Linked DNA regions of Homo sapiens: region 1 is linked to region 2. A link means that fine-mapping ties the variant in region 2 to the plasma level of a protein whose gene starts in the linked region. Region 2 holds a variant in brackets. A gene starts in the other region. All regions are shown on their forward strands. Region 1 holds the start of CRISP2 (cysteine rich secretory protein 2). Region 2 has its middle 3.1 kb from the start of ZNF727.

Evidence for each region. PIP is the posterior inclusion probability: the model's chance that the variant is causal. The UK Biobank Pharma Proteomics Project read protein levels with antibody pairs (Olink). The fine-mapping took linkage between variants from a reference panel, not from the people measured, so its PIPs are less certain.
Region 1: CRISP2 starts here. The variant in region 2 is fine-mapped to the plasma level of the CRISP2 protein (UK Biobank, PIP above 0.99).

The regions. Positions count from the first base shown.
Region 1 is chr6:49,710,868-49,716,255 of GRCh38, forward strand. It overlaps CRISP2 (cysteine rich secretory protein 2), which reads right to left and starts at 2,676. Exons shown (of 10, transcript NM_003296.4): 1 at 2,608-2,676; 2 at 1,634-1,737; 3 at 418-454.
Region 2 is chr7:64,039,654-64,045,041 of GRCh38, forward strand. No RefSeq gene overlaps it. Among named protein-coding and RNA genes, the nearest start is that of ZNF727, 3.1 kb to the right of the region's middle. The variant A/C (reference allele first, on the strand shown) is at 2,661.

The sequences.
Region 1 (5,388 bases), not on the chromosome of region 2:
TATAATCCTAACATTTTGGGAGACTGAGGTGAGAGCACATAACTTGAGCCCAGGAGTTCAAGATCAGCCTGGAAAGCACAGTGAGACCTCATCTCTACTAAAAACAAACAAACAAAAACAAAACATAATTAGCTGGGCATGGTGGCAAGTGCCTGTAGTCCCAGCTACTCAGGAGGCTGAGGTGGGATGATCATTTGAGCCTAGGAGTTTGAGGCAGCAGTGAACTATGATCACAGCACTGCATTCCAGCCTGGGTGACAGAAAGAGACCCTGTCTCTAAAACAAACAAACAAACAGACAAACAAAAAACAAAAAAATAAAATCATGGGCAAACTCATTAATCATTTTACCCTTGACAACATAAAAATGATTGGCATGATAAAATATTCACATTAAAATCAATGATTTAACACTTACTGTTGGTTTTCTGAGCAGGATGAAATATCTACTTTATCTTTAGAAAGAAAGAAGGTGGAAGGTTTAGAGCAGCATATATATTACACATATTCCTGTTTTGTCAAACTCTGGTTTTGTTAAATAAATCTAAGTCAACAAAGTTCTGAAGTAGTATTTTTCATACCAGTAACCTTAAACTTCATTGTCAGTTGTCTGATAATGCTTTTGACATTATTTGCTTCCCACATAGTTTTTAACATGAGTAAGTAAATCATGCCCTCCCTTTCTAATCAGTTCTCCCTTCTCCTTAGGCACACGATAATCTGCATGTGGCCTTTTTGGACTAGTATTTCTATATTGACAACCCAAGACAGGTTAACTACTGTGAAGGTTACCAGGATTCTGCCTTATAGCTGAACTCTCATAGTTCAGCTGTCTATGATTTTTACTTTCTAATTATCAACTACCTGTAGCTTATTGGTTACGGGTGCATTCTTTGGAAACCATCAGGTCTGGGAAATCTATGCCAAGCTTCAGTGTTTTTCTTATGTAAAATGTAGATTTTTATATCACAGGTTTTTGCTTTGAAGACTGGAAGGGACAATGTATGTAACACCTCTAATACAATAAACACATTATGCACATAATACAAATAAACGGAAATTATTCATGTTTTTATTATCTTTTGCAATGTCTGCTAGTTTGTTGAGCTCATAAGAGCTTTCTATAAACATATGCTGTTTGATTGAATTGCTAATTACTAAGTGTTTAAGAGACATGTGTTTCCTTCCAGGTGTTATAGGAAAATACAATCAGTATAATCTAATTCGAGATTCACATGTTCAAGGCCTGGTTCTATTAGACACCTTCTGGCTGACTTTAGGAAAATGCTCTAACATCTGGGCTGTTGTATCCTCATCAGCTCATTGAAAGCCATACACAGGAGCCTGAAGAGTTTTGTATAGCTCAATCACCCAGTGTATGCATCTGATGAGCCAGAATTCTATAATAGGCCATGATGCCATACTCTCCTCTTTGCTGCTCTTCTCTCTCATAACCTCAACCATCTAACCTATACTCATCTTCATTGAGTCAATGAAAGCAATGTCACTGTTGGTGAGAGTATATTCAAGGAAAAATATTTTTTTCTATTCCATATAATTACATTTTATTCCTTTAAACCCATATTGATATATAGTTGAAAAGTTGGCTACCATTTTTTTTCTTTGCTACTTACTAATGGTGAAGTACTGTGCTCTTTCTTGCAGGTGTTTTAAGATCAGGATGACATGGTTTTCCTAGAGTGTCTTTAGGAGGGCCATGGTGTATAATTTTATAACCCTAGAACAAGGAAACAAAATATTTAAAATAAAGATGTGAAGAATACCCTTATAGATGGTATCTATAATCTTTGTCACAAACTTAAATTTTGACTCAATTGTTTAGTATTGTTTCTAATAATTTACTGTATTTATTTGATTTCAGCGTTAAGACCATATTGTCCTTCTGAGGTCAGATTGTATTTCAACGCCCTGATATTTCCTTCAAACACTAACAAAAAAGTGGACTTCTTGAAGTTCAGTAACTACTAGTTGGCTAACTTGCTTGGAAAATTGCAACCTTTTTTCAAGACTCCCAACCCCTTATCTAGGACTTCAACCCATTCTTTAAAAGATCATTTCCATAAGCAGTGTCCCACATGGTAAGTATTAACTACGTGGATTTGGGGGTAACAGCTTTGTCTCTTCATTTTTTTTTTAAATTCTGGAAGCCAATAGATGATATAAAGTCCAGCAGAGTCAATGACCCCAACTCTAATTGTTATTACAGTTTCTAATAACTGTACATTCAAAACATCAATTAGAAACTAAGAGTCTTAATTTGACTTCGTAAAAAGCAGATTGAGAAATGACTTCAGGCTTCTACTATGATTCAATGGGTCTTATGTACTTAGAATGATTTCTCTTTTAAGGTAGGTAAAGAGTTTCAATAGACTAAACATAGAGAAGCATGTTGAAAGTTATGGTAGGTCGGCGCTAAGCAACAAAATTGAACTCTCAGTCTGCCCGGCATTAGCTATGTGCCCTCCAGATGCCGGAAGAGGAGCGAAGGAGGATCAGAAACCCCCTCACCTCAACGATGGTTCTCTCCCCTGTGCTTCACCCCACCTCCCCGTCCCTAGCCATTTCTAGTCTCCAATCCGGGTCTTACATTTACCCTGGCTCCAGAGCACAGACCTTCCTGCAGTTGGGCCGGCGCGTTGCGGCGTTGAGGAGCTGCGGCGCGCCCCTCTCACCGCGATTGTTCACTTGCCAGGCGCCACGTGTGGGCGACGTCACTGGGCTTTATGCTTTCATCGCCGCTATCTGCCTACGTGAGCTGCTCTCCTCCCATCGCCCCCGCCTCCCCTACTACGGAGAAAATCTTGCACGTTTTCCCTTGTGAAAAGCAGAGTTCTCTTTTTCTCATTACCACCAGTTGATGAGGAAAGAAAATGTCTGTTCGCATACCTGCGCCGTACTAGGAGGAGGAGGGAGGTCATATAAGGATTCGGGTTGCCCAGGGGGTGGCTTGAAAAAGGAGGCGTTCGCATTCAAACAAGAATGCCTGAATTAATGTAGTTCAATTTAAAGAGCTAATTAGGAGTCCACAGGTGCTTAAGTTTGCAGTGCGCTGCCAGTGTCATGCCAACGACGCACTCCAGTTACACAGGTTGTCAGTTTCAGGCTCCCTCATAAACACTTCATGTTCTTGTCCCTCTTCCCCGTTGGCAACAGTTTTATGGTGAGAAAATTCACGAAGAGTAACAGGAACAACTCTTATGAAAATACGCAGAACTCCTGACCCAAGGCTACTGGCTGCAAGTTTAGCATACGTATCAAGCATGGGTTAAAGACATGTTTTCTCTCTCAGAAGGCGGATGAGTAATAGGTGCATTTTCTTCTATTCACAGTTGTTTTCAAAGCGAAAAGGAGTGAATTCGCTTATGACCTAGAGGAAGAGAGATGGGTCAAAAGATGTCAAGCCAAGGATTAATATCCGTCATACCTTGGTTCTCTGTAAGCCATGCAATAAGAGGCTTGAGATTTCACCAACTCTGGAGACTCACTTGGGCACAACTGAAACTATAACAAACTTGGTGCTCAGTGCCATTTTCCTTTGGCAGTGTTACAAGGTAATTTCAAGGGATCAGCACACAGACATTGTTTTAGTTTTCTTTTGCTGCTTATTTCAGTTCATGCAGCACTGACTAAAAATTTTGGAATTTAGACTGCTTAACGCTTATATCTACATCCAATATCAAAATTCATTACTGACAGTTTGCCTTTCTAAATATTTATGAAATCTAGTCCTCAATCTGTCCCTCACTTCTATATTCATGTTTTCACCATATCTTGCTTAAGTTATTAATTGGACATTTCAAATACCTATATGCACAAAATCTCTGCCTACCTATTTGTTCTTTCTTTCTAGTGCCGAACAATTCATTCTCAGCACTATAATAGTCTATCATTTACTGTGAATATCTTATTTTTCATTTTTGGAGAAGAGTCATTCCTGTAATTATTACTTGTTCCCATATTCACATTGATGATATCAGAATGAGAGCAACTTGAGCGCTGTGGTGCCAGATATTGTTGGTGAACCTGAATTTCAGAAATTGGCTATGTCTGTCTTGATTATTGCTGTATCTCCAAAACTAACACAATACCAAATATAGGTGGTAGTTTGTAAATATTTGTTAAGTGAGTAAATATTGACCCGACATAGATTCTTAGAAAATACAGAAAAAAGGACATAAAATCTCTTTCTTCTAAGACTCATAGTACTATGAGAGAAAGGAGTATGTATATGAATAAGTAAAGAATACTATTAGGTAGTGTAGTTTAATGCTAAGTAGGGCGACCAAAAATATATACAGTAATTGAGAGTTCTGTGAGTTGATATGATCTGGGTAAAACCTAGGAAAGTTTTGACATTTGAACTGTTATTGAATAATGCGTATGGCTTGATTTGAAGGGAGAAAGAGTTGAAGAACAAAAGCAGATAAATCATTATATCACAAGGCATATTCAAGACAGAAAGACTGTTGAAAAGGTTGGGGAAACTTTGTATAGAAGTCTAAGGAGATTTGCTTCTCTGTATAACATGGGAAAGTAATTTCATTGACATTTTGGAGGGTTGGGAAATTCTTTGATCAAAAGAATGTTTCATAAAAGCCACCTGATCTCACTGCATGGGGTGATTTACAGAGCTGAGAAATTGATGGCAGCAAAAATAAGTGTGGTAACAATTCCCCAGATTAATTTTGTAGTAGTAGAAATAGGACAAAAGGGTGGAATATGAAGAGATTTTTAAAAAGTGTTGATAGATTTTGTATGAAGGGCAAATCCAGAATAGAAGACTTGTAAGTTTGGTGCCTGAATGTGTTGGAGAGCACATGGAAAGTAGATCTCCATTACTGAGAGGAATAGTACAGGTACTTCTAAGAACATTGCCAGGAGTCCTTTGCTTTTCTAGAAGGGCATCATTTGTTAGTTCCTTTTTCTATGGTTTGGAGTAAAAGAAGCAATGATTAGAAATGCATTCCTCATAGTAGGCTCTATAGCAGATTCTACTGTATAGGATATAGTTAAATACCAGACTTTAAATTCTCTTGTGAAAATTATGATAGAATTGGCTGAATAGAGAAGTATCTGTGCAGCTGCTGGCACTTGTGGCCTATGGAGAAATACATCAGATGAAGACTATAGAGATTTAGCTGTAGAGGATAAATGAAGAGATTGCTTAGTTAAGTAAGTAGACTCTTTAGCTCATTTTTTGATCTATTTAATTTTAGGTGGTTTGGTTTATGGGTAACCTGGGTAAAGAGCATACTCCAAACTCTTGGTATTATCCTCCCGATAGTCATAATAATAGTTTCCCTGGTACACTGTATTCTCTCAAAGGTTTTAAGTGCTTCCACGCAGCCATTGCTAGAATGTCAAATGG
Region 2 (5,388 bases):
AAACTTGGGGGTTTTGACCAATAGTTTTCAGCTATTAGTTGTTACTTTTGTACCGCATTTATTGGTAAGACTGTCCATTTTCTTCAAACTTTTTTTACTCTTTTTTTTCAGATTCAGTAATTTCTATTGTTCTGTCTTTTTCTAATCTATGAATCAACCTAAAAGTACTATTTTAAAATTTCATTATCTTTCTATTTGGTTCTTTTTAATAATGTGCATTTCTTGCTGAGATTCCACATGTATTCATTCATTATGAGAACGTTTTTTCTTCACCCCATGACTATAGTTTTAATGGCTGCTCTCAAATACTTGACTGCTGATAACAACATCTTGGACGTTTTGGGGATAGCTTCTAATGCCTGTGTTTCGTCTTGTGCATGAATTACATTTTGTGTTTCTTCTCATGTCTCTTAAATTTTAAAATTGTATTTTGAAAACTATAAATAATACTTACAAAGACTCTGGATTCTGTTGTATTCCTTTGAAGATTGTTGTTATTTTTTGAAGAGGGAGTTAATTTGGCTGGATTCAAATTCAGATACCCTTCTCCCTTTCAGTGGGCACAGCTAAAATTCTCATTCAGTTCTTATCTGTACATATATCCTATGTATGATATATAGATGTGTGTTTCTATATAACAATATATGACATTGTATCCAGATTTTACCATTGTTATTTGTAAGAGTATTGTTCAACAAGCTACTCCACCATTACTGAAAGCCAAAACTTCAATTTTATATTCTTTTTGGATTTTACATAAATGGCATTATATAGTATGTATATTTTTACATCTACTTTCTTTTGTACATCACATTTGTAATATTCATCAGTGTTGCTGCAGATATTTAAACACTGAGATTACAGGCATAAGCCAACATGTTCAGCCTATAATATTTTAGGAGGCTAAGGTAGGAGGATCACTTGTGGCTGGGAATTTTAGACCAGTCTGGACAATATAGTGAGACCCTCTCTCTACAAAAAAATTAAAAATTAGCCAGGCATGGTGGCATGTGTCTGTCATTCCAGCTACTCAGATGGCTGATGCAGAAAAATCAATTAAGCCCATGAGTTCAAGGCTGCAGGAAGTGATGATTACAATCCTGCACTCCAGTCTGGGTAACAGAGCAAGACTGTCTCCTAAAAAATATATATATAAAAATTTAAAAGAATTTTATACATGATGTTAAATTACACATAAAACTAACTATTTTAACTATTTTAAAGGTTTCAGTTGACATGAATTAAGGACACTCATTAATTTGCTACCATAATTTCCATGTATAAAAAGCATTTTCCATTTTTTGAAACTGAAACTGTACCCATTAAACAACAGCTCCTTGTTATTCTCCCTCTAGCCCCTGGGAAACACTCTCCTACTTCGTGTTTCTATGGATTTACTCTTAAGTACCACACATGAGAGGAATCATATAGTAAAGAAATCATGAGGAAGAATGATAAAAACGTATCACATGCTTATTAATTTTGAATAAAAACACCAACAGAGATCAGTAGTACATGGTGATTATAAATAAACAGATAAATGAGAAAAAGGAATTGGCAGTGTGCATTGTATTTATGACAATGGGGCCTCAAGTACCATAGTAGTGAGTCCTCTGCCCCAGTCACAGGGCTGTTCAGTGGTGGAGCTGGAAGCCCAGTGTAGCTGTCTGACACCCGGATCCCATGCCTAGCCCAAATGTCACTGAGCTCTAAGGTACTTTCCTCCTGCTGGTCCAGGCACTCAGTGTTCCCTAAGATTTATCATGGCATGTTCTCCATGGCCAGGAGGGTGGTGTTGCTGGACTACTGGGATAAGAGATCCAGCTGGCAGGCAGGTTGTAGCTACAGTACAGAGGCAGATGTGAGGCTAGTAGAATCCATATCCCTGGCCTCCTTCCCAGTGCCTGCCCAGCTGGAGTGCTGGGTCCCAGGGGTCATCATGCAGCAGGGCCTGACACTGACCAGGGAGCCATGGCCACAGGCTCTTGGCAGCTGGCCCAAAACAAATATTCTCCATGCCCTCTGACAATCTGCTAGACCCTCACCTCTCAGTCTTACTGAGCCACTCCATTAACTGGAGGCAGACCCAAAATTGCCCCACAGGCTGAAGGTGATAATTGTCTGCAGACAGCTGAAGCAGCTGCATCTCCTGGAAGACTTTGATCTCCTGCAGCTAAAGGGAAGGACAAGTGGAAGATGTGGACAGGAGGTTCCAGGAGACAGGGATTATGAGATTTCAGGGGACAGGCCTTGAATGGACACCCAAAAGTGAGTACTTATCCCCATTACCACCCGATGGCACAGGGTGTTGCCTCCATCCTGGGCACATTTTCCAGTTATCTGGTGATGGGAGACCCTGCCAGAAAGGATTTTGTGGATGGGAGTGAGCCTGGGATGGGCAGGGCTGGAACCAGGATCCTGAGGCTTGGGAGAAGAGAATCCAGGATTACATCCTTAGATCTCAGCACTTGGCAAACCTCCTCTCATGAGAGCCTCACGGCTGCCTCTGTGAACTGAGGCTTCAGGCCTATGAATCTATGAATCTTCCCTATGAATGTTGAAGACTCCACATCAGCCGCCAGTCCCTGTTCTCTAAGTGGTGAAGCTGCAGAGCTGCCTGCTTGCAAAGCCCAGTGAGGTTTGGCCTGAGCTGGACTCAG[A/C]CTCTCCCTCAGGTGGTGCCAATGGAAGGAGAGTAAACTTCCTACTAACCGGACCTGGGTGAAAAATGTTGAAGGGAACTTGTGGGGAAGAGAGGTAACGGGCTGTTTTCTGGGGCTTTTCTCTTAAGGGCCTCTTCCTGTTCTCTAATGCCAGGCAGCCCCAACCTATTTTCAGAGTTGGATACAGACAGCCCCTCCTCCAGGAACTGGTTTTTGATTTCAGTCCCCTACTCACACCCTCCATTGTGATGGGTCTCTTTATCTGTGTATCAAACCTTTTCAATAAATCTAAGATGCAGAGGATGGAATCTAAATCTGAGATTGCAGAGGCTCCATCCTCTGCATCTTAGATTTACTGAAAAGGTTAAGCTGGGTGCAGTGGCTCATGCCTGTAATCCCAGCGCTTTGGGAGGCCAAGGCAGGTGGATCACTTGAGGTCAGGAGTTCAAGACCAGCCTGGCTAACATGGTGAAAACCCATCTCTACCAAAAATATAAAAAATTAGCCAGATGTGGTGGTATGCACCTGTAATCCCAGCTACTCATGAGGCTGAGGCAGGAGAATCGCTTGAACCCGTGAGGTGAAGGTTGCAGTGAGCAGAGATCATGCCACTGTACTCCAGTCTGGGCAACAGAGCAAGACTCTATATCAAAATAAATAGATAAATAAGTTAGATACACAGAGTATTCTCCCCAGGGGCATCTGTGAGTTTTACCTCTCCACTCTCCCCCAGTGTTGCCCCAGCTACTCACCTTCCTTTTTTTTTTTTTTTTTTTTTGGTGTTATTCACATTTCCCTGGAAGTCAGACAGCCAGTGTTCATTAGAAAGGCCCCTTAGACCCTTAGACTAGGTCCCCTCCCCACTCCCTTCATACTGCATTACTGCCAGGGCCACCAGGGTCAGGGCATGTGCACAAAGCAGGAGTTGGGTCTGCAGCAGGTTCTGGGGTTCAAAGAACAGAACAATGGGAGCTGAGGCTCAGGGACCTCCCGCCCCAACTCTCTCTGATGACAGAAAAACTGGAGGCTCCCATTAAAAAAGTGCTCAGGCTTATATGAGCTGCCTGCCCTTAGAGAGGTCTAAGTTTACTCTCCTTCCATTGGAACCACCTGAGGGAGAGTCTGAGTCCAGCTCAGGCCAAACCTCACTGAGCTTTGCAAGCAGGCAGCTCTGCAGCTTCACCACTCTGGGAACAGGGACTGACGGCTGATGTGGAATCTTCAACATTCATAGGGAAGAGGGGCCTGATGCCTCAGCTCACAGAGGCAGCCGTGAGGCTCTCATGAGAGGAGGTTTGCCAAGTGCTGAGATCTAAGGGTGTAGTCCTGGATTCTCTTTTCCCAAGCCTCAGGATCCTGGTTCCAGCCCTGCCCATCCCAGGCTCACTCCCATCCATATAATCCTTTCTGGCAGGGTCTCCCATCACCAGATAACTGGAAAATGTGCCCAGGATGGAGGCAACACCCTGTGCCATCGGGTGGTGATGGGGATGAGTATCCAATTTTGGGTGTCCATTCAAGGCCTGTCCCCTGAAGTCTCATAATCCCCTGTCTCCTGGACCCTCCTATCTACATCTTCCACTTGAAAAAGCCAAAGACACTCAGCTGCCTCTCCCCAACTCTCTCCCCTCCTCCTAGCTGGCCTCCAAAAACATGAACCCCCATGTTCCCATGTTAACTCTGTGGTGAGATTTTTACAAGTCACAATGTTATGTGGTCCCTGCCCCCACTATTTCCCAAATCCAGCTCTTCCAGGCTTTTACTCAGATTTGTCTTATAGAGGCATTTCAGGGACTGTTGCCACAGGAGGGAAGGGCTACGGGAGAAAGGCCCCTTGCTCTTTTGATGTGGAGGCCTCCGGCTGTGAGGGAGGAGCTCTTCCCTCTGACTCCCTGGAGCTCCTCCCCATCACAGGGACACTGCCTTTTTGCTGCTTTAGCCTCATCTGGCCTCTCTGTGGTTTCGTCTCCAGGGTGGCCAACGTGGATGTCTTCATCTGCCAGAGTCAAAGAAAAGGTCAGTGATACTATGCTCCCTTCACCCAGTTATGCCCAGTTACACTGACCTGGTATCCTGGATAACTGGTGTGAGTAAGCTGGTCCAATGCTCCTGTCATCTCCAGTAAGTTCTGATTCTAGATTGACTCCCTGCTCCAACACTCCCTGTATGTGGAACCTTGGGCATGCAGCCAGGCCTCCCTGAGACTGTTTTCTCAACTTGAAAGTGTGATGGGAACCACCTACCTCACTGGGCCTTGTGAGGACTCAGTTATATGTAGCTGTCACCATTGTTCTCATCATCTCAGGAAGAGCCAGGCACAAGCACTCTCAAAGTTCTTTTCTCCTTTGAAGCTCATCATTAGCCCCTCTCAGTCTCATCATCCCTACATTTTTTGGATAAGAAAACAGAGGCCCAAAGAGGGCAGTGACTTGCCCAGGGCCCTAGAGAAGAGGCCGGCTCCTTCCCACACCTGGAGGCACTGACCCAGCTGACTTTACCCCACAGCCCAGCACTATCCCTGACTAGGGTCCCATCTTCGTTCTCCATGCTTGTTTAGGTCCTCAGGCAGGCTCAGCTTTGGTGGGAAAGAAACAGGGTGTTTTGGGAGGTCTGGGTGAGTGGCACTAACCAATCTGCTAGGCCCTCACCTCTCAGTCTCACTGAGACACTCCATTAATTGGAAGCAGACCCAAAATTGCTTCACAGACTGAAGGTGATAATTGTCTGC